Linked DNA regions of Homo sapiens: all the other regions are reported to be linked to region 2. The links are microRNA targets in miRTarBase. Many come from high-throughput screens and were not tested one by one. Region 2 holds a microRNA gene; each other region holds the end of a gene's coding sequence.
What was found. The annotated mature microRNA hsa-miR-7846-3p reads CAGCGGAGCCUGGAGAGAAGG and lies in region 2 at 2,085-2,105, shown strand. An mRNA with a match to its seed (bases 2 to 7 or 8) in the 3' UTR can be bound and repressed. Matches are read on the target gene's strand: a 7mer-m8 pairs with bases 2 to 8, a 7mer-A1 pairs with bases 2 to 7 and ends in A, and an 8mer does both.

Region 1: the mRNA of EHD2 is a reported target of hsa-miR-7846-3p. Seed matches in the 3' UTR shown: 7mer-m8 at 2,063-2,069.
Region 3: miRTarBase lists LPP as a target of hsa-miR-7846-3p. The part of its 3' UTR that is shown has no 7-base or 8-base seed match.

The regions. Positions count from the first base shown.
Region 1 is chr19:47,739,887-47,747,064 of GRCh38, forward strand. It overlaps EHD2 (EH domain containing 2), which reads left to right. Exons shown (of 6, transcript NM_014601.4): 6 at 995-3,248. The coding sequence ends at 1,546. It overlaps NOP53 (NOP53 ribosome biogenesis factor), which reads left to right and starts at 5,660. Exons shown (of 13, transcript NM_015710.5): 1 at 5,660-5,897; 2 at 7,081-7,145. The coding sequence starts at 5,674. RefSeq lists a silencer at 3,869-3,978 and enhancers at 5,543-5,932, 6,353-6,853.
Region 2 is chr1:12,164,926-12,172,104 of GRCh38, forward strand. It overlaps MIR7846 (microRNA 7846), which reads left to right and starts at 2,018; the gene lies at 2,018-2,113. TNFRSF1B (TNF receptor superfamily member 1B) reads left to right here and starts at 2,066. Exons shown (of 10, transcript NM_001066.3): 1 at 2,066-2,244. The coding sequence starts at 2,167. RefSeq lists silencers at 1,902-2,211, 2,222-2,451 and an enhancer at 2,492-3,133.
Region 3 is chr3:188,873,141-188,880,334 of GRCh38, reverse strand. LPP (LIM domain containing preferred translocation partner in lipoma) reads right to left here. Exons shown (of 12, transcript NM_001375462.1): 12 at 1-5,984. The coding sequence ends at 5,856. Among named protein-coding and RNA genes, the nearest start is that of TPRG1-AS1, 71 kb to the left of the region's middle.

The DNA of each region.
Region 1 (7,178 bases), not on the chromosome of region 2:
TGCTAGCTGGCAAAGGGCCGCTGCTCTCACTCATCAGAGGGGCCCCAGCCTCCCCACCCTCCAGTAATTCTGGGGCACAGGAGAAAGCCTCTGGGACCTTGTTGCCCAAGTATCTTCTCATTGGTGGGTGCCCGAGCGGAACAGGTTGTTCAGATGTTCAAATACTTCTGCATGTGTCAGTAAAGAGCTGCCACTCTGGCTGGGTACAGTGGCTCACACCTGCAATCCCAGCACTTTAGGAGGTTGCGGTGGGAGGATGGCTTGAGCTCAGGAGTTCGAGACCAGCCTGGGCAACATAGCAAGACTTGGTCTCTACAAAAAATTTTTAAAACTAGTTGGGCGTAGTGGCGCACACCTATAGTCCCAGCGAATTGCGGGGGCTGAGGAGGGAGGATCACAAAAATTTAGCTGGGTGGGTGGTGTGTGCCTGTGGTCCCAGCTACTTGGGAGACTGAGGCCAGAGGATCGTTTGAGGCTGGGAGTTGGAAGCTGCAGTGAGCTATGTTGGCACCACTGCACTCTAGCCTAAGTGACAGAGCGAGACCCTGTCAAAAAAAAACAAAACAAAACAAAACAAAAATGGCTGGGCGCGGTGGCTCATGCCTGTAATCCCAGCATTGGGAGGCTGAGGCGGGCGAATCATGAGGTCAGGAGTTCGAGACCAGCCTGGCCAACATGGTGAAACGCTGTCTCTATTAAAATTACAAAAATTAGCTGGGCATGGTGGCGCATGCCTGTAATCCCAGCTACTTGGGAGGCTGAGGCAGGAGAATCGCTTGAAACCGGAAGGCGGACGTTGCAGTGAGCCGAGATTGTGCCATTTGCACTCCAGCCTGGGCAACAAGAGCAAGACTCTGTCTCAAAACAAACAACAGTAAAAAAACCCCACAACAGCTACCCCCGAGCTTCTCCAGTGTCCTGATACCACCTTGCAGCCTGAGGGCCTCAGGGATGGCGCCGCTTGAATTCTGGGTGCCCCTGTCCCCCACCACAGGAGCTGCTGATGGCGCACGACTTCACCAAGTTTCACTCGCTGAAGCCGAAGCTGCTAGAGGCACTGGACGAGATGCTGACGCACGACATCGCCAAGCTCATGCCCCTGCTGCGGCAGGAGGAGCTGGAGAGCACCGAGGTGGGCGTGCAGGGGGGCGCTTTTGAGGGCACCCACATGGGCCCGTTTGTGGAGCGGGGACCTGACGAGGCCATGGAGGACGGCGAGGAGGGCTCGGACGACGAGGCCGAGTGGGTGGTGACCAAGGACAAGTCCAAATACGACGAGATCTTCTACAACCTGGCGCCTGCCGACGGCAAGCTGAGCGGCTCCAAGGCCAAGACCTGGATGGTGGGGACCAAGCTCCCCAACTCAGTGCTGGGGCGCATCTGGAAGCTCAGCGATGTGGACCGCGACGGCATGCTGGATGATGAGGAGTTCGCGCTGGCCAGCCACCTCATCGAGGCCAAGCTGGAAGGCCACGGGCTGCCCGCCAACCTGCCCCGTCGCCTGGTGCCACCCTCCAAGCGACGCCACAAGGGCTCCGCCGAGTGAGCCGGCCCCCCTCCCATGGCCCTGCTGTGGCTCCCCAGCTCCAGTCGGCTGCACGCACACCCCTGCTCCGGCTCACACACGCCCTGCCTGCCCTCCCTGCCCAGCTGTAAGGACCGGGGGTCTCCCTCCTCACTACCGCCAGACACCCCGGTGGAAGCATTTAGAGGGGACCACGGGAGGGACAAGGCTTCTCTGTCCGCCCTTCACACCTCCAGCCTCACGTTCACTTAGGCACATCACACACACACTGGCACACGCAGGCATCCATCCATCCGTCATTCATTCAAATATTTATTGAGCACCTACTATGTGCCCAGCCCTGTTCTAGGCACTGGGCATTACCATAGAGAACAAAATAGACAAATACATCTGCCCTCATGGAAGGTGACGTTCCCAGGAGAGGGCACCTACACAGTCACGCAAACACACACTAATTCCTGGCAGGGCCCCCAGCCCCTCCCCTGGCTGAGCAGCCCTGTGGCTGAAATGACTAGCAGATAAACAGACCCCCTTCTGCTCCGCTTCCTCCTGCCCAGCCAGGCAACACCCTCAACCGGCTCCATCACATCCTCAGGTCTCGGGACCATGGGGGGCTCAGAGGGGAGACACACCTACTGCTTCCTCAGATGGGCCCCTCCGCAGCCCCTTCCCTTGCTCGGGGAAAGCCCCCAATTCTGCCCACACCCATTTATTTCCTTCCTTCCTTCCTTCTTTTCTTTCCTTCCTTCCTTCTTTTTTGTTTTTGCCCCCAATTCTGCCCATACCCATTTCTTTCTTTCCTTCCTTCCTTCTTTTTTGTTTTTGCCCCCAGTTCTGTCCACACCCCTTCCCTTTCCTGTCCTGTCCTTTCTTTCTTTTTTGATAGAATCTTGCTCTGTCGCCCAGGCTGGAGTGCAGTGGTGAGATCTCAGCTCACTGCAACCTCCACCTCCTGGGTTGAAGTGATTCTCGTGCCTCAGCCTCCTGAGTAGCTGGGACTGCAGGCACGCGCCACCACGCCCAGCTAATTTTTGTATTTGAGTAGAGACGGGGTTTCACCATGTTGGCCAGGCTGGTCTCGAACTCCGCATCTCAGGTGATCTGCTCGCCTTGGCCTCCCAAAGTGATGGGATTACAGGCATGAGCCACCGTGCCCGGCTTCACACCCATTTCTTTAAAAAGGATCCCGTAGCAGGCAGAAAAGCCCCTTCCATCCTGCTCCTCTGATACTGTGCCCCCTTGGAGATATTTCCGTCCTCCACCCACGTGTCTGTGGCTGGAACTGCCCAGCCTGCTCCTGGCCCCCTGGAAGCCTCCCCACAGCTGGTAATCTGGACTTAAGGATTGCTGGGCCACCGCCTCTCTGCCTACCACCATTCCATATTTAAGTGGAGCCCCTACGTAGAAAGGCCCCGGGGCTTTATTTTAGTCTCCTTTTCAGGGATGTCGTGGGCGGGGGAGGGGGTTCTTGGTGCTACAGCCCTCTCCCCACCCCTAAAGGGACGCCGACGCTGTTTGCTGCCTTCACCACATATTAGTGCTTGACCCTGGCAGGGGACCCCATGGAAAAGATGGGGAAGAGCAAAATACATGGAGACGACGCACCCTCCAGGATGCTCGCTGGGATTCCCACGCCCACCACTGTCCCCCACCCCATGGCTGGGAGGGGCCTCTGAACGGAACAGTGTCCCCACAGAGCGAATAAAGCCAAGGCTTCTTCCCATGTGGCAGTGAGGCTGGCTTGGGACAGGGATCGCCCGCCCTCCCCCAGGGAAAGAGAGACCTGGGCAGGATTTGGGGTGGGGGGAGGCCCCCTTCCGTGCTCTCAGGGGCGGGGTGGAGTCCGTGACTCAATGCAGCGAGGCCTGGTGACTCAGGCCTGGGCTGGGGGCCAGAACGGCATATTTTCCGAGGAAAAGTGACTCTGGGGCCCTCCCCCCGGGACATCCCTTCCTCCCACCTCCCGCGGCGGGGGCCTGGGAACCAAGCCCTGGGGCGCGCGCGGGGTGTGTGTGTGTGTGTGTGTGTGTGTGTGTGTGTGTGTGTATTCGGGCACGAAGTGCTCTCCCAGCTCCCGCCCTGCCCGGCAACGTGCCCTTGCACAACCTGGGTACATAACTCCCGACGCGTAACACCAGGAACACGCTGGTTTCTGGTTGGGGAAGTGGTGACCTTGCCCACACGGGCTGCCAGGAGTGTGCGCGCGCTCACGCACCGGGGACTCTTGGCCAGAGCTGGGCAGCGCACCGTGCGCGCCGAGTCCCGCGCACTCACATCCAGGCCACACCCACGGCGTCCCGGGACACGCTGGCCGCGCACTCATCCCGCCCACGCGGGCCCAGTTTCGCGGCTCGCGGCGCCCCCTGGCGGACGCTCAGAAAACAGATAGGCTGTGGTCGCCAAAATCCCTGCCCAGGTGATTCGGCGCTCAGGTCTCGGGGCTGCGATCCAGGGCCTGTCACCTTTAGGGCCTGTCACCTTTCCAACGCTCTGCGCAAGGATCCAGTTGAATTTCGCTGTGTGACCATGCGTGTGTCGCCTGCCCTCTCTGTGCCTTTTTCCTTTATGAGTCCAGAGTGGCTTTTATGAGGCCTGGATTCCTTTGATTTGATTGTTTTGTTTTTGAGACAGGGTCTTGCTCTGTCACCCAGGCTGGAGTGCAATGGTGCAATCACGGCTCACTGCACCCTCCAACTCCTGGGCTCAAGCGATCCTCCCACCTCAGCCTCCCGAGTACCTGGGACTACAGGCGCACACCATCACGCCTGGCTAATTTTTAAATTTTTGGCAGACACAGGATCTCACTATGTTGCCCAGGCTGGTCTTGAATTCCTGGGCTCAAGCGATCCTCCTGCATCGGCCTCCCAAAGTGCTGGGATTAGAGGCGTGAATCACCACGCCCTGCCATGGATCCCTTTGAATGGCTGCCAGGGCCCAAGAGCCTCTGAGCTTCCTTCCTTATTTGTAAATGACAAAGATGAGTTGATTCTAAGATGAAGCCTCAGAGGGCAAGGCAGTAACAATAGCTAACACTCAGATGCCAGACGCAGCCTTAAGCGCTTTACATATGTTTAATCTTCTGCATGACTTATGACGCAGATGTACTGTTATCATCTTTATTTTACAGATGAGGAAACTGAGGCACAGTGAAGTAGCCCGCTCAAGATGAATGATTCTGAGTCTGCACTTCTAGGGTCCTAAAAGTGTATGTTTCTAACATTCCTCTAATGTTCTGTGCTTCCAACTTTGATATTCCGAAAGTTACTTGATTTCTAAGATCCTAGGATTGGAACATTTGAGAGGACAAAACTTCTGAGATTGGAATGTGTGTTGTGCGGAATCTGCCACTGACGGTTCTGACTTTCTAAGAAAACGAGATTAAAAAATAATCAGGCCGAGCATGGTGGCTCACATCTGTAATCCTAGCATTTTCGGAGGCTGAGGAGGGAGAATCACTTGAGCCCAGGGGTTCAAGACCAGCCTGGACAACATAGTGAGACCTTTGTCTCTTAAAAAAAAACACACACACATCAGTTTGGACCGGGAGTGGTGGTGTGAGCCTGTAATCCCAGCGCTTTGGGAGGCCTAGGAAGGAGGATCACTTGAAACCAGATGTTTGAGACCAGCCTGGGCAACATGGGGAGGCTCCATTTCTACAAAAAATAAAAATAAAAAATTAGCCAGGTGCGGATGCACCCTTCTGTGGTCGCAGCTACTCGGGAGGCTGAGGTAGGAGAATCCCTGAGCTTAGGAGTTGGAGGCTGCAGTGAGCCATTACCCTTCCACTGCACTCCAGCCTGGGGGCAACAAAGTGAGACCTTATCTATTAAAGAAAAAAATCAGTTTGAGCAAAGACCCCAGGCGGCCGGGAAAGGTGTTCGCTTAAGGGCGAAAGCTAAGAACCTGCAACCTTCCCGTCTCTTTCCTACCACCCGCCGCCGTTAGGAATCTTCAGATCCCGCTGTAAAGAATGGAGGAAGGAGGAGCCATTTATCCTTTACCAAGATGGCAGCCTCCTGGCAACTCCAGTCACTTTATAAATATGGCTGCCACAGGAAGTACGTCACGGAAGAGGGTGGGAAATCTGCGCGCGCACGCTGCAAAGGGGCTTTTTGGGACGCCAGTGGCTGAGTTCTTCCTTTGACAAGATGGCGGCAGGAGGCAGTGGCGTTGGTGGGAAGCGCAGCTCGAAAAGCGATGCCGATTCTGGTTTCCTGGGGCTGCGGCCCACTTCGGTGGACCCAGCGCTGAGGCGGCGGCGGCGAGGCCCAAGAAATAAGAAGCGGGGCTGGCGGCGGCTTGCTCAGGAGCCGCTGGGGCTGGAGGTTGACCAGTTCCTGGAAGACGTGCGGCTACAGGAGCGCACGAGCGGGTACGTTGGGCGGGACTTCCGGGAGGTGGGACGGTTCCTGCGCCCAGGTGCAAGGCCAGGCGTGCTTGCGTGGACTCGTCGGGGGTCGGGGGTCGGGGGTCGGGGGTTGGGGGCTCCTGTCCCGGGGACCGCCGAGGAAATGGAGAGCATGGGCAGGGGACTCAGCATGGGAAGCTGGAGAGCTTGATAGAGTTACCAGATTTAGCAGATAAATATACAGGACGCTCAATTAAATTTGGATTTTAGGTAAACAATGAATAATTTTTAGCATAAATACGTTCCATGCATCCACCTTAGCTTGCTGTTTTCTAAATATGTGTGTGTGTGTATGTATATATGTGTGTGTATATATATGTGTATATGTGTGTATATATATATGTGTATATGTGTGTGTGTATATATATGTATATATATATGTTTTTCAGACGGAGTCTCGCTCTATCGCCCAGGCTGGAGTAGGCGCGATCTCAGCTCACCGCAACCTCCGCCTCCCAGGCTCAAGCGATTCTCCTGCCTCAGCTCCTTAGTAGCTGGGATTACAGGCGGGCGCCACCACGCTCGGCTATTTTTCTTTTCTTTTCTTTTTTCTTTTTTTTTTGAGACGGAGTCTTTCTCTGTAGTCCAGGCTGGAGTGCAATGGCACGATCTCGGCTCACTGCAACCTCTGCCTCCTGGGTTCAAGTGATTCTCCTGCTTCAGCCTCCCAAGTAGCTGGGATTACAGGCATGCACCACCACGTCCGGCTAATTTTTGTATTTTTAGTAGAGACAGGGTTTTGCCATGTTACAGGCCAGGCTGGTCTTGAACTCCTGACCTTAGGTGATCCACCCGCCCCGGCCCCCTAAGGTGCTAAGATTACAGGTGTGAGCCACCACACCCAGCCTAATTTTTGTATTTTTAGTAAAGGCAGGGTTTCACCATGTTGGCCAGGCTGCTCTTGAACTCCTGACCTCAGGTGAGCCACCCGCCTGGGCCTCCCAAAGTGCTGGGATTACAGGCGTGAGCCACTGCGCCTGGCAGTCCTTCCTAAATACTAAGTTCTGTAAACTGCTGGGCGAAGCCTTAGCCTGGAAGAGTCCGGTGGCGGGACTTGACTAAGCGGAAGATGAAGGCTGGACCTGCCAGGTTAAATCTCTTTCCTCTCCAACATCTCTGGCTGATGTTCTGCATTTCTGTCCCCCAGTGGCTTGTTGTCAGAGGCCCCAAATGAAAAACTCTTCTTCGTGGACACTGGCTCCAAGGAAAAAGGTGAGGAGAGGCTTTTGTGGTGTGGAATGGCGG
Region 2 (7,179 bases):
TAGAGCCCCAGAGAGAATGAGCTGGAAACTGTCCCCAAAGTCCCCAGTGCCAGATGGGTGACAACTTTGGCTGCCATGGAACACTGTGCCCTTTCCTTCCCAAACCCTCACCCCTGGGCCTGACCCTGGAGTCAAGAACTGCACTTGGCAGAGTTCAGAGAGAAGTCGCCTGCTCTCAAGCCTGGGTCGGCCTGGAGAAGGGGAGAAGCCCCATGTTGCATAGAGATTAAGCTTGAATTCGTTCCCAGGATGGGACCTAAGCCTGGGAGGATCCCCACCTTCAGGAGGTGATGGTGCCATTCACTGGGATAGGGAAACTGGCAGGAGGAGCCGGTTGTTGAGGGTTGGGGGTGCAGACAGTCTGTTGGTCCCATTGGTCTTGAGGTGTGTGGGGGACAACTAGAGAGAACTATTGTCCCCTGCTTCCACGAGGTGACATCTCCCTCCTGCCTTCAGCTCTATTTTAGGGATCAAGGAGTCCTTGGAGCTGCTCCTAGGCATTCTCATAAGGGCCAGAAGAGCTCTGCATGTCTGTCCAGCGGCTCTGCAGAGTTAAGGCTGTGGGTCATACCAGCCACACCCTCAGCGTGGTCCATGTCACAGAAACATGTGGAAACCAGGTGATTTCCCAGCCTCCTGGTCAGGAGGTGGGGTTTTCCATCCCCAGGGAGTCACTTCCCAGTTTCTCACTCAGCACTCAGCACCTAGAAGCACCATCCTTGCAGGCTCCACTGTGGGGCTGGTGGCCGGGAGCAAGGGTCTCTGTACCTCTTCAGGCAGCCTGCAGTGAGGAAACAGGGAACAGAATAGCCTCCTGCCACCCAGCCCACCCCAACCCTTAGAAATGCCCTATGTGCTGGGGGCTAGGACCCCCGTAATCCAGGGCTGGAGGAATGTGCTCTGGCCCCGCAGGGCTGGCCCTGTATTAGGGCTGGCACTCAAAGTGGGGATGGGGGGACAGATTGCAGCTGGAATGGGTGCTCGGTCATGATGTAAATCCTGGGGAAGCCAGCTCTCCTGGGCCTGGTCTCAGCAGCCCCTCAGGGCCCTGCAGCTTCCCTGGTGACATTCTCTCCCAGCCTCTGTTCATCTGCCCCCTGCCTGGGCAGGAGACTTGAGCAGGGAAGTGCAGAGTCTTCTCCCTGTGAGAAGGCTGGATGCGTGTTTAAGGATAAATGAACACGCGAAGAGTAGTAACAACAGCCAAGATTTATAAATGCCTATTGTTATATATGTAGATACTTACTTAAGTATATATAAAGTACAGACTGCATTATGTATATTACATATCTTTAAATTTTTAGAATAGTCCTATGAGGTCAGTTCAGAGATCCAGACCCAGGTGGTCTGGCTCTAGAGTCTAAACAGGCCGAGTGCAGTGGCTCACACCTATAATCCCAGCACCTTGGGAGGCCAGAGGCGGGAAGATCACTTGAGGGTGGGAAGAACACGTGAGCTCAGGAGTTCGAGACCAGCCTGGACAACATGGCGAAACCCCATCTCTATAAAGAAATCAGCCTAGCATGGTGGCCCGAGCCTGTAGTCCCAGCTACTCGGGAGGCTGAGGTGGGAGGATCGCTTGAGCGCAGGAGTTGGAGGCTGCAGTGAGCTATGGGTGAAAGAGTGAGACCTTGTCTCAAAAAAAATTAAAAAATAAGAATTAAATATATTTAAAATAGAGTCTAAATAAGTGAATGATCTAGAATTCTCTTGGTTCCCCTAAAGCAGCTGTCAGCTTTGGGGGATGTTTTTCCAAATTAGTGCCTCACCCTCACGGGACAGGGAAGCCTGTGGGAGCTGGGAGGGCAGGTGGAGGCCGGGCAGGTGGAGGCCGGGCAGGTGGAGATGGTGATTCGAAGAGGAGGGGACGATAGGAGGAGGTTGAGGGGTCACCCGAGTGCTGGGAGTGACGCTGGAGGTATCGGCCCAGCGATGCTGGAGTGGTCGGGTCGGAGGCCCAGCAGCGTCTGGGGAGGGGCGTGGGGGAGGCGTGTCCAAGGCCGGCTGGCCCCGCCCCGCCCCGCCGCCTGGCCTCTGGCCCGCTGGGGCGCGGGCTTTCGCTTTCAGTCGAGGGCTAGCGAGCGCAGCGGAGCCTGGAGAGAAGGCGCTGGGCTGCGAGGGCGCGAGGGCGCGAGGGCAGGGGGCAACCGGACCCCGCCCGCACCCATGGCGCCCGTCGCCGTCTGGGCCGCGCTGGCCGTCGGACTGGAGCTCTGGGCTGCGGCGCACGCCTTGCCCGCCCAGGTGGGTGACTCGCGCGGCCCACGGGGGACAGCCGCCCCGCATGTCCACCCGGCTGGTGCGCAGCCTTCGGGTGCCCGGGCCGCGCTCTCCCGGGGCGCTGTCACGGGCTGGGAGGCTGGGAGTCCCAGTCGCCGCCCCCCATCCGCATCAGACACGCGCGCCTCTGGGGACCCGCTGGGGACTCCGGGCCCGGCACACGTGCGCTCGGGGCACAACTCTGGCCCCCGAAGCCCCTCTTACCCGCGTCGTGACAGGGGCGCACCCTGGTTCCTCCGCGAGCGCAGGCCGGGGCATTTGGGGCTGAGCAGCGGGTCCTGGGCAGACCCCCGCTAGACCCGGGACCCCTCTTCCCTCACCCCGGCGACTGCCGCGACAGCCCTTCCCTCCCACGCGGTGGAGAAGGGGCTGTGCCGGGGCGCTGCCCCACTGCCCACGCCGGGCACCCTCTTCAAAAGACTTCCTTTTCCTCTGGGCGACGGTTTTCCGATTTCTTAGAAATACCAGGGTCCTGTGTCTGAAGAGCAGGACCAGGTGTGTGTCAGGTCCACTGAGGGCACAGCTGGAGGGCGAGCTGCCTGTCTGCTTCCTCCGATGCGTCCGGGGGCTACTGCAGAGTCTGTTTTCTGCGGCCTCTGGGGACAGGGCAAGCGAGGGAGGTCTGGGCTGGTAATCGAGCAAGGCAAATGAAGTCTCCGGGGGCCGCAGGAAAATGGAGACAGCAGAAACCCTAGGGCTCCTATTCAATATGAACGTCACTCCCACAGTAGCAACGGGCGTACAAGGGACTGTGCACCCTTTGCCTGTTTTTGACTGTCTCCTGGTCTGGTAACATAGGATAACCCCATTTTTGTTTTACTGTCTCCATGGTTTGGTAAGATAAGATAAACCATTTTTTAGAGAAGGAAAACTGAGGCTCAGAGAACTTGTATTTCATGGAAGGGTCTGGGGGGAACTCTTCCTCCAAAGGGGGCCTCTCCTGCCTTCGGCCCCTGTGCCCTGAGGCTGCGGGGAAGGTGGGCGTTCATCCTTCCTCAGAGCCGCCCCTGATGGACACATGGCCCATCTGCCCCCATCTGACATCTTGACCGAGGAGGAAGGTGGGAGGTGGCACTGGCTTCTGTGGTGACATAAGGTGACTTGTTGATCTGAGGCCAGAGAGTCCAGTTCTTGTGGGTGGAAGATGGGGGCTGTCAGACTAGAATTGACTCACCGACAGTGGGTGTCAGGAGTGGGTCCTGGAGAACTGCCCCAGAGTAAGTCCTGGGTGGCCTTTGGGTCAGGAGAGTCCCCACTCTAGGGCCGAGTGTGAATGGGGACGACCGTGGTCCCCAGCTTGACTTTGGGGTCATGCCATATACTCTGGCCTCAGAGGGGGTCTTCCTGCCGCTGAGCTTGGGCCTGCCTGGGTGAACTCTGGGGTCATGTGAGCCCCTGGATGGGAGAGGGGTGTCAGGCACAGGGCTCAGCAGGACACCAGGCTGCAGTCCTGGAGTAGCTGGAGGAGGTTCCCTCCCACTTCCTTCCCTTCCTGACCAGCTCCTGCGGCAGCTCATATTCCCTCCTCCCTCATCCCTGCTCCCCACGACCCCACCCGGACTATTGCCGCAGCCTTGTAGCTGGTCTCCCGGCCCTGCCCCCTCTCCCGCTGATCCTTGGCAGAGAGACCCTTCTCAAGCATGAGGCACCTCTCTGTTTGCCTGGGGAGCCTCCTGTGGCTCCCAATGGTTGAGGCAGAAACTCCCCTGGAGATCCCAGGCCAGAGTAAGGTACCTGAACTCTTCCTCGCGCCTCCCTGCACATGTGCTCCCCCGCCTCTGTAGAACTGATGATGGTCATCGTGTGTGTCATTGTGCAAAAAGCATTGTCCGTGCCATCCCCTCTCCAAGGGACACTTCTTACCCCTATCCTTCAAGGCCTTCTGCAAATGCCATTCTCTCCAGGAAAGCCTTTCCGCATTCTCAGTTGGATTTGATCTTCTCTTCGAACTCCCAGGCCCTTTTGTTCCCTTTGAGGACAGATTGCATTCTGCTTTTTAATCTAGCTGTGTTTTATCCCCCTCAGTGGATGGAAGGTGTCTTCAGGGCCAGAACTGTGGGTTCCTCTTCCTTCTCATCAGTAGCATCGCCATAGCTCCTGATTTCTGAACACCCACTAAACACCAGGCACTGGGCTAGGTACTTTGTCACAAAATTTCACTGAAACCTCCCTTACAGCAACTCCCAAGAGGTGGGTGGTGCCGTTTGTCTTTAGAGATGTGGAAACTGAGGCGTTTCCCAGGATCACAGAGCTGGGGGCCGGGGAGCTGGGGGTGGGATTTGAATGCAGGTCTGCCTGATTCCCAAGCTCCTTTCACTGCACCCTCCCCGTGCCCGTATCTGCACTCATGCTCCCAGCCAGGCCCTCACACACAGTGGGTTCTCAGGATGGAAGTCAACTGAGCTGCAGAAGAAGCCCCCAGGAGACCTGAGCTAGCCATGGACGCAGCCGACTCACTGCCAGCAGGGCTTTTGCCCCGTTTAAAAGTCTTATTTGCCAGCTGGTATGGAAAACATCATTCATTCATTTAGCCATTTATTCATTTGACAAAGAAATGCCAGTAAACCTGGCAGTAGGTGAGTGCTTGGTGCCCTCTGATGGGGATGAGCAGGGTCTGGGCTGTCTGGGGAGGAGGATGAGGGGTCTCTGCCTGATGGGCCTGGCCCACCTACCCCTGGAAGTCTTGGTGCTGAGGTGCCACTATTTGCCTCCTCATCACCCAGGGCCTGGGGCCAGTTTGGGTTAGGGGAGAGGTTGGGGGCTCCCAGGCTGGATGTCAAAGAGGAGTTGGGTGATCTGGGGTACCTGCTGGCCCTGGGGGCTCTTCCCTCCTTCCACCACGTCTCTGTCTCTTTGCCCTCTGTCTGAAATCCCAGTGGGGACCCTGTGTGTTGACTGAGGGTGTGGTCTGTTGGTCAGGCACGTCTTCAGAGGGCAATGGGTAGGTGGCCAGGCACCCTGAGGCAGGGCCATTCATTCATTCATTCATTCCCCAAAGTTCATGGACACACCTAGTCCAAGCCCAGCCCAGTGCCTGGCTCTGGGGACCTCAAGATGACTCCAGCTCCAATCCTCTAGGAGCTACACTACCAATAGGTCACAGACCTCACAGACCTGGGCTCTGTCCCAACTGCCCTTATGAGCTTAGCTGAGCTAGTAAGCCTATGTTCTCATCTGTGGTTGTGGAAAGTATTCCCTGCCTGGCCTTTGTCACAGAGCCATGGGTGTGAAAGGCTGAGAACCTGCCGGGCATTCTTACGTCAGAGGTGACCCTGCCATCCTGGCACCTGGCACAGTGGCTCCCCGTAGCACTGTCCCTCCCCACGGCTGGGTGACGCTTTATGGTCCTTACTATGCAATGTTTTCTGGAGGAGTAGCAGGGACGGTTGTGCGTGGGAAGGGGAAGAGTTTTGCCGGAGCCATGGCATGTATGTTACACCCGACTCTACACCAACTCACTTCTTACTTTTTTTCTGAGATGGAGTCTTGCTCTGTTGCTCAGGCTGGAGTGCAGTGGCGACATCTCTGCTCACTGCAGTCTCCATCTGCCTCTTGGGTTCAAACGATTCTCCTGCCTCAGCCTCCAGAGTAGCTGGGACTACAGGCATGCACCACCATGCCCAACTAATTTTTTTTTTTTTTGTATTTTTAGTAGAGTCGGGGTTTCACCATATTGCCCAGGATGGTCTTGGACCCCTGACCTCAAGTGATCCTCCCGCCTCAGCCTCCCAAAGTGCTGGGATTACAAGCATGTGCCACTGTGCCTGGCCCGTTCTCACTTCTTCTTCTTTTTTTCTATTTAATTTTTTTTTATTGAGATAGAGTCTTACTCTGTCACCCAGGCTGGAGTGCAGTGGCCCAATCTCTGCTCACTGCAACCTCCACCTCCTGGGTTCAAGCAATTTTCCCACCTCAGCCTCCCAAGTAGCTGGGATTACAGGTGTGTGCCACCATGCCCGGCTAATTTTTCCTTTTTTTTTTTTTTTTTAGTAGAGACCGGGTTTTGCCATGTTGGCCAGGCTGGTCTCGAACTCCTGAACTCAAGTGATCCACCTGCCTCGGCCTCCCGAAGTGCTGGGATTATAGGCGTGAGCCACCCCACCCAGCCCCATTCTCACTTTTAAGCCATGCTTTTCTGTCCTCAGATGTGCTGCACACACACCTGCTCCAGGGCCTTTGCACTTGCTTTCCCCATCACCTCCAATACTCCTCCTGCTGACGTCTCTTGGTCTCCTTCCCTCGCTTCCTTCTGCTGAAGTAGACAATCCTGCCTGTAGGTGCTCCCTGCCAGGCACTCTCACTCCCTGACCTGCTTTGTATTCCTGTATAATGCTCTTGACCTATTCTATTTATTTCACTTTTATTATGTCTTCCCACAAGATTGTAAGTACCGTGAGGACAGGGACTCATTCACCACTGTAGACTCTAGCCTAGAAGAGGGTTTTTCAGTCAGTGCCTCTGACTTTAATTCTTTGTTGTGGGGCTGTCCCGTGAGCTGTAGGATGTTTAGCGACATCCCTGGCCTCTACTTATTGGATGGCAGTAGCGCCACCCTCCCTCGTGACAAAAATATCTCCAGATATTGCTAAGTGTCCTTTGGGGTTGGGGGATTGCCCCTGATTGAGAACCACTGGCCTAGGACAGTGCCTGGCACATAGTAAGTGTTCAAAAAATATTCATCTGACCTTGACCTTGATAATGGCCCTGTTTTACAGATGAGACGGGGGTTTGAAAAGTCAGTGGTGGCAGGGTGGGGTTCTGTTTGCCTCCATCTCTTGGGGTATTTTTCTGGGCTCCTCTTCCCATTGAGTGGTGTCTGCTGAGGTTAGGGGTCCTCTCCCCAAATTGCTCACCCCCTCGACATCCCTCGTGTAGTGAGGGATGGGGCCACTCACTGAC
Region 3 (7,194 bases), not on the chromosome of region 2:
AACACGCGGGGCACGGTGGCTCACGCCTGTAATCCCAGCACTTTGGGAGGCCGAGGCGGGTGGATCACGAGGTCAGGAGATCGAGGCCATCCTGGCTAACACTGTGAAACTCCATCTCTACTAAAAATACAAAAAAATTAGCCGGGCGTGGTGGCAGGCGCCTGTAGTCCCAGCTACTCGGGAGGCTGAGACAGGAGAATGGCGTGAACCTGGGAGGCGGAGCTTGCAGTGAGAGGAGATCGTGCCATTGCACTCCAGCCTGGGTGACAGAGCCAGACTCCGTCTCAAAAAAAAAAAAAAGAAAAAAAGAAAAAAAACGCATCTTTCACACAGCTCTCCACAAAATAAGGGACATGCATGTTGTAACTAAGATAGAGTCCACAATTTTTTGCACAAGGGCCAGGAAAATTAAATAGAAAAGGAAATTAGTGTCCTTTTTTCTGGATTGAAGGGAAATTCTGCCTGTAGTCTGTGATCTAAGAAAAACTGGTGCTGTCCAACCTGCTGAAAAATATTTTAGTATCAACTATTACAATATATTATTAGTCTTACAGGCTAAGTGTTAATCTGTGTTAAAATTCTGAAAATACAATAGTTATTCCTTTGCTATAAGGAAAGTTATCAAGCTGCAATGGAATAAAATAAAATGCCATCATTAAAATTATAATTTTTTGGGGTTACATTGCTTCAGACTTAAAAAAAAAATCTTAACCTAGTCTTTGAAAGATTACTTTGCATACAGCTGAGAAAACTAGATCAGTCACAAATGAATTTTCCAAGAATCTATGACCTCAGTCCCTGATGAAAATTCATTAACATGAAACAGAAAGACTCTATTATCTCATTTCACTTTACGAATAAATACAACCTAAAAAATATGCCCCTATAAAAGAAGATTTTATGGATGCCACATATATTTTCTGGTAGCCTTCCCCTTATGAATATAATCATAATTCCCTAAAATCATAATGCATTGATTTAATTTACAAAAAATCCAAGTACAGCAACACTAATAGGTAGGATGGAAAGTAGGAAAGAAAATAAGAAGAGGAGGAAGGAAGAGGAAGAAAGGAAGGGAGGAAGAAAGCAAGAGAGGAAGAATCCTTACCAAGTCATAGTAGCTTCAGTCAGGTAACTTTTTAAGGTTTGAAATAAGGCTATGCTAACCAAACAACAGCCTCATGAGAAAAGTTTCATTCTAGTTATCTGTCAAGTGAATAACTTGGCCTGAAATATTCATGGTTGCACCATATTAATGCCTCACTGAGAACAAGTTTTGAACTTGTCTGGACCACTATTAAGCAAATACAATGAAGACAATTAAAAAATATGCTGAATGGTGGTAAAGAATCAAGTTGAAGTCTCTGTCCTCATTATCTGACTAAAACTACTGTAAAATCAAATAAAAAACACTAACATCCATTATATCACCTTCTGGCATAAAAATGTTTTACTCATTTAAAGACCTATGAGATACTTCCAAGACAAGGAAAAAATAAATACTACTAGAATATATTAAGATGAAAAGTTGACTTCTCTCTCTTTCTTTTCTTTCTTTCTTTTTTTTTTTTTTTTACTTTTTTACTTTTTGGTGAGTATATTTTTGAGATTTGGTGGTTATCATTTACATCATTGACTCTTCAGTGGAATATTCATAGTAGTGTAAATAGATTCTTTGAAAATAAGGCACAAGTATATGTTGTTCTCTGATTGTCTCCCACGAGAGTGCACCAAACGAGCGATCCCAAGAAATGGACTTGAGGCACATTTTGCAGAGGTGTCTTTTTCAGTTTGCTGGTTTCCCACAGATGGCTAAAGCAGGGGTATGGAACATGCTGTCATATTTCATTCATAACACACATGTACTATAGCTCTAGGCAACAGATGGACAATCGCTTGTTTGAACTACAAATGTGAAATACTAAGGTAGAATAGCAATATTTCTAGAAATGTATATGAAAAAATAAAGCCTTTCCAAGCCAAGAGGAATGGTGAGAGGCTTTGAGGTTACATCAGTGTTTCCCTGATCTCCCTAGCAGCTGCCATAATTTCCCCAACACCCTTCAAAACTTGATAATGGAAGGATCAGGGGGCAGCCGACACAGATTTGACAAGAGAAGCCCAAACCATATCCAATAGAAATAACACTGTTATTCCTGGCTGGTTCACATTAATAGGATTTTTACTAACTAAAAAAATGGCTGGAAGTTGTGTTTTCAGAGTCCTGTCTATATTCCACTAACTCTCTACTATAGCCCCATGGAAAAAGCCCTCTCTTTCTTCCTCTGTACCCAAATATAAAATACTTGTTTAAATGTAGAGTTTCATATCCTTTAAACCTCACCATAAACATCTCTGTGGAATCTTTCATAGGGAACAATTATAGTGTTGATAAGTCCACCCCCTTAATCAGCACATACCCAGAAAAGTAATTTTGATCAGAGAAGTTGCTCCTACAGAAATAACAATGTGTTAATGACAAGAAAAAGAACCCACATCTTTGAGCTGCAGAGATGCCAGCATCTAACAACCTGATGCCTTATGCTGGGACACATGACTTATTTTTGAGTCGATTATTTATTTATTTGTTTTTTTAAACAAGCGCATGCCACCATGTCTGGCTAATTTGGTTTTTATTTTATTTTATTTTTTGTAGAGACAAGGTCTCACTATGTTGCCCAGGCTGGTGTCAAACTCCTGGCCTCAGGCAATCCTCCTGTCTCAGCCTCCCAAATTGCTGGGATTACAAGTGTGAGTCACCACACCTGGCCTTATTTTCGAGTTTTAAAGGCAATTTTCTTGGCCAGTGAGACTCCATGTTGAGTCAGTATGGTCTGGGGGTTGAAAAATTTAAGAAATCCTATTTTGATATGTTCTGCAGAGCCCATGATATAGTGGATTTTTTTCCTTTTCCATGTCTCTCTTGTTACACAGAATTACCAAATATTTATATTCCTGATACTTTTCAAAATCAGTATATTTTTACAAACTTTCTGTTATAGACTCTGATTTTTCTACTATTTATGTATTTAAACCACAACAATTATGATATTATATCAGCAGACAGTATGATTATAATCATTAAAGTAATACAATCTTTTTCTCTCTGTTGCAGGCAAAATTTCATGCAACTAAAAAAGAGTGACTTGGCATTGTTTAAATCAAATGATTAATAGAAAAGACAGTAATATAAATCATATATTTAAGAAACCCTAGAATAAAATATTGTAGGATCCTTTCCTTATTATACCTTGTGAAAGAAAAAAAAAACTCTAAATCTAAATGTTTCTACATATGTATGAGTGCACATTCATTATTATAAAAGAATAAGTCTATCTTAAAAAGAGATTTACTTTAAAAACCTTTGGTAAAGATACTCTGAGGTTATGTTATAAGAATGCATAATAAAGATTGTAAGCAAGCAGTATTCTGCTGACGATGCCACAGGGATGGGTCTGTGACAGCATTTTCTTACAGCTTTTCCTCTTGACATGTAAACATTCAGTTACACAAGGATTTAAATGTAATAAGCAAGTAGAATGTTACTGCATTTTATAGTATAAATATTCAATAAATTCTTCTTCTTTTGGCAAAATTAATAATAATATGACCACTTTAAGAGATACAATCTATCCCTCAATAAATTGGACTCTCTGCTTTGTCCTAAAGAGAATTTCTCCGAAAGTATTACATAAAAAGTTACTAAGTCAAAATTCAAGCCGATTACATTATCAGCCCTATTGTCAAATAGTCAGTGCTACTTGAGGTCATCAGCATGGTCTGGCTTCAATTTGGAAGACAGGAATTCAGAGACACAGTTGACATTGCCTCCCAAAACTAACATGCTGCCCCTAAGTGAATCTCATCATATTTCACATTATGAGAAATATACGATCAAAGATAAGAGAACTAGGGTAAGAAAAAGACAGTGGTCAAAGGAAGCTCTTAAAAGCTATAATTTTGGTGGTTCTAACACAAAACCGTTTAGTGACAAAAGCAAATGAGCCATACATTAAGGATGAGCTATAGTGACCATCGGCTTAAGAATTTCTAGTCACAAAAAAAGAATCACTTTTATGATCATTCCTATTCAAGTAAAATAAATTTAATTGGAATTCCTGAGGAATAGTTTGCAATTCAAAACACGTATCCATAATTTTTTATTTCAGTTCTGATGTTAAAATTAAAAACTAGAAAAAAAACTAGAAATCTGAACATCACTTCACAATAATGAAAAAGATATCTGTGGAATAAGGAAACGGTACATTGGAGGATGTAATTATACTTGTTATATTTGGTGTCTTAAACTGGGTATTAGGTATATAGGAATTCATTATATTATTATTTATACCTTTTTGTAGACTTAAAATACTCCATAATTTAAAAGTATATACTTGTGGGAGATTTGAAGAAAGATTTAAGAAATCTCAGTCCAAAATCCTTAGTTTACAAAATGGCAACTTGCCATGACTAAGCTAGGTGTCTCTCCTTAAGTGAAACATGTTCGAACTTAATAAGTATGGCTTGGCAGTTGGCAAGCAAGTGTTTCACTGGCTAATAAAAGTTTGAATAAAGATTCTAGGCAGAGATTCTGCATATTTTTAGCTCATAAAGACAATTTTTGTTTCAGTGATTGTCTTTGAAAGTGTGGTGTAAATGTCACATTGATGATATGAAAATGTCTCCTGCAATATGTAATTTCAGTTGCAGAAGGATTATGAGAATAATGAAACTGTGGTTTCAGAATCTTTTCAAGCTTTCTACTCTTTTGAAAGTAAACCAAACAAAACTGCACAGTTTTATTTTGTATGCTCTGATTTGCAATTGTCAGGCAAAATGGACCTGGTAATAAAAAAGAAAAAGAAGAGAATTTGAACGGTTTTTTCACAGCCTTCATCCTCTAGAGAAAAAGGCAATTTTGATAGTTGTGTTGGATATTAGAATAAACATGACAATATTTTTAAGATGAGAAGTGGGACAGTATTGAAAATGTTATCTTCTAGAAGAAATCAAGTTTGTCTGTATTACAATGTTCAGGTAGTGCGGAAAAGAAAAATCTTAAGGTAATATTGTGGGACAATAATGTTTTTTTAAACATAACCCCAAAATGCCTTTTCTAGCATATCCCACCTGTAATTTCTTTAGAAAAATATTGAAGCTTGGTTGTCTGTCACTACTTATTAGCTATGGGCCGATAACTCTTTTCCAATTAGCCTTGATCACTGGTCACTATAGATTCTGAATTCTGATGGTTGCAAATTAAATTTGGGCTTGTTCTAACTTATGTAATTTACAGCTTAAATTCTTTACAGCCTAACAAAAAAAAATTGTGCATTTCCCTCCCCAAGGACGTGAGTAGTATAAAGCAAGAGAAGAATATCCTCTTCAATACATGGGAAAAGAATGGCTACTCTTTACAGTCACAGGCAAAACGGAAATGATAGGATGGAGATTTCAAGCCTAAAAGCACCTGTGAGTTGGCAGACTCACCCAGGAAAAACTATGTGACAGCAAATACCACACTAAGAAAAGCCATTCAACCAGATGAAAAGTGAGACAAACATAGGGATTAAAAGTTACAGGAATGCAGAAGTGAATGGGATGGAGCATAATCTGTGCAAAAATGTGGAAGTCCTTGGGAACAAAGGCCCATCAAGATCCTACATGATTCAATGTGAAATGTGTATTTGGTAACAACTTTTAAAAAAAATCTCATAATTTATGTGTTTCTAAGGCAAGGTTAATAGCAGATGAAGAACAGAGACTATCGCGTAGTTTGATGGCCTTTACTCTAGTATTTCTTATCTTTTTCTTGTGTTCGTTCTTCTCAGTGCCGGCTGAACAGGTGACTGAATCTAAAGGTCAGTGCTCGCCTTGGCGGTCAACACCCTGATGCGGGCAGAGTTGCAGGTCTTGCAGAGGATGTGCCCATCCAAGGGGTAGCAGCCTTGGTTATCTCCTTCAGACAGGAGACCACCGCAATCCTAGAACAGTAAAGACAGATGGAAACGACATAAGTAAAAACGTTAAGTACACATGTGGAGAACATCATGATTGAGCTTTCTATTCAAGGCCTCCATAATGTGGCCACTTACTATCCTTCCTGCTTTACATTCTGCTAATCCCCTGTATCCTTTCTCCCAATATATAACATAGTATATCTTGAATGTAATTGAATTAGAGATTGGGGACATAAATATAAATGGACATAAATATAATCCTCCTAAGCTCACTTGATATGAAATACAGGTATAAGAAGAGAAGAGGCCACCCATCTTGGCTCCCATGTAGAAGTTTGCTGCCCCCACTCAACAAGAGAAAATAAGAATGTCCCTAACCACCGATGCATTTTTTACCCTTTACCATTAGTTTAAGGATCTCTCAAAATGCATGCACAGGTACAGGAATGGAATGTTTTGGCCATTTCTGGCCTAGAGCAAAGGTAGACTGATGTCTGCCAAGCAGAAGGGCCACCAGTGGGTTCGGTGTATTTACTTCAACTGCAGTAAGAAAATAAAATCCTAAAGTTTGTGGGGAGTAGTGGTTTGCTGTACTTTCTAAAGGAGACAGCATTGTGGAGAGCAAAGATTGCTAGTCCAGGGGACAGGCCTCCTGAGCACCACCCACAGTTTTGCTACAGTCTGCCTCAATGCACACAGGCCGACTGCCACTCTGAAAATAACTTCTGCCTTTTCTACCTTACCAAGCTGTTAAGAGGATCAAAGAAGATAATGGATCAAAAAAAAAAATGCAAAGAACTGCATAACTGTAAAGGAATATACTACCGCTGACAGCTCCTCTTAGGGTCCATTTTGAAAAGTGTTATATAACAGTTAAATGCTGGCCTTTGTCTTTGGAGAAAATAGAAGTTTCTTTGGAAAATAAATACATAGTACTTCATCAAGAGGTGTGTGTTTGCTAACTTTAGTATAAACTCTCAAAGGCCACAACAGCTATGAACCTCGCCTCTGCTATCTACCATGGTGGCAAGGAGGTCAATGGAGTTCATGTCTTCATTTGACATAGAATGAAATTTAAGTTAACGGGGTATCCAGAACACAATAGCAGCAATGGTTATACTCTGCGGGAAGTTTGGCTTTACTGAAAAGAACATGCAGATATACTGCAGCTCTAGAGGCGTTCAGGAAACTGAGCAATTAGTAGTGCATGCTAACAAATAAATAAATCTCCATG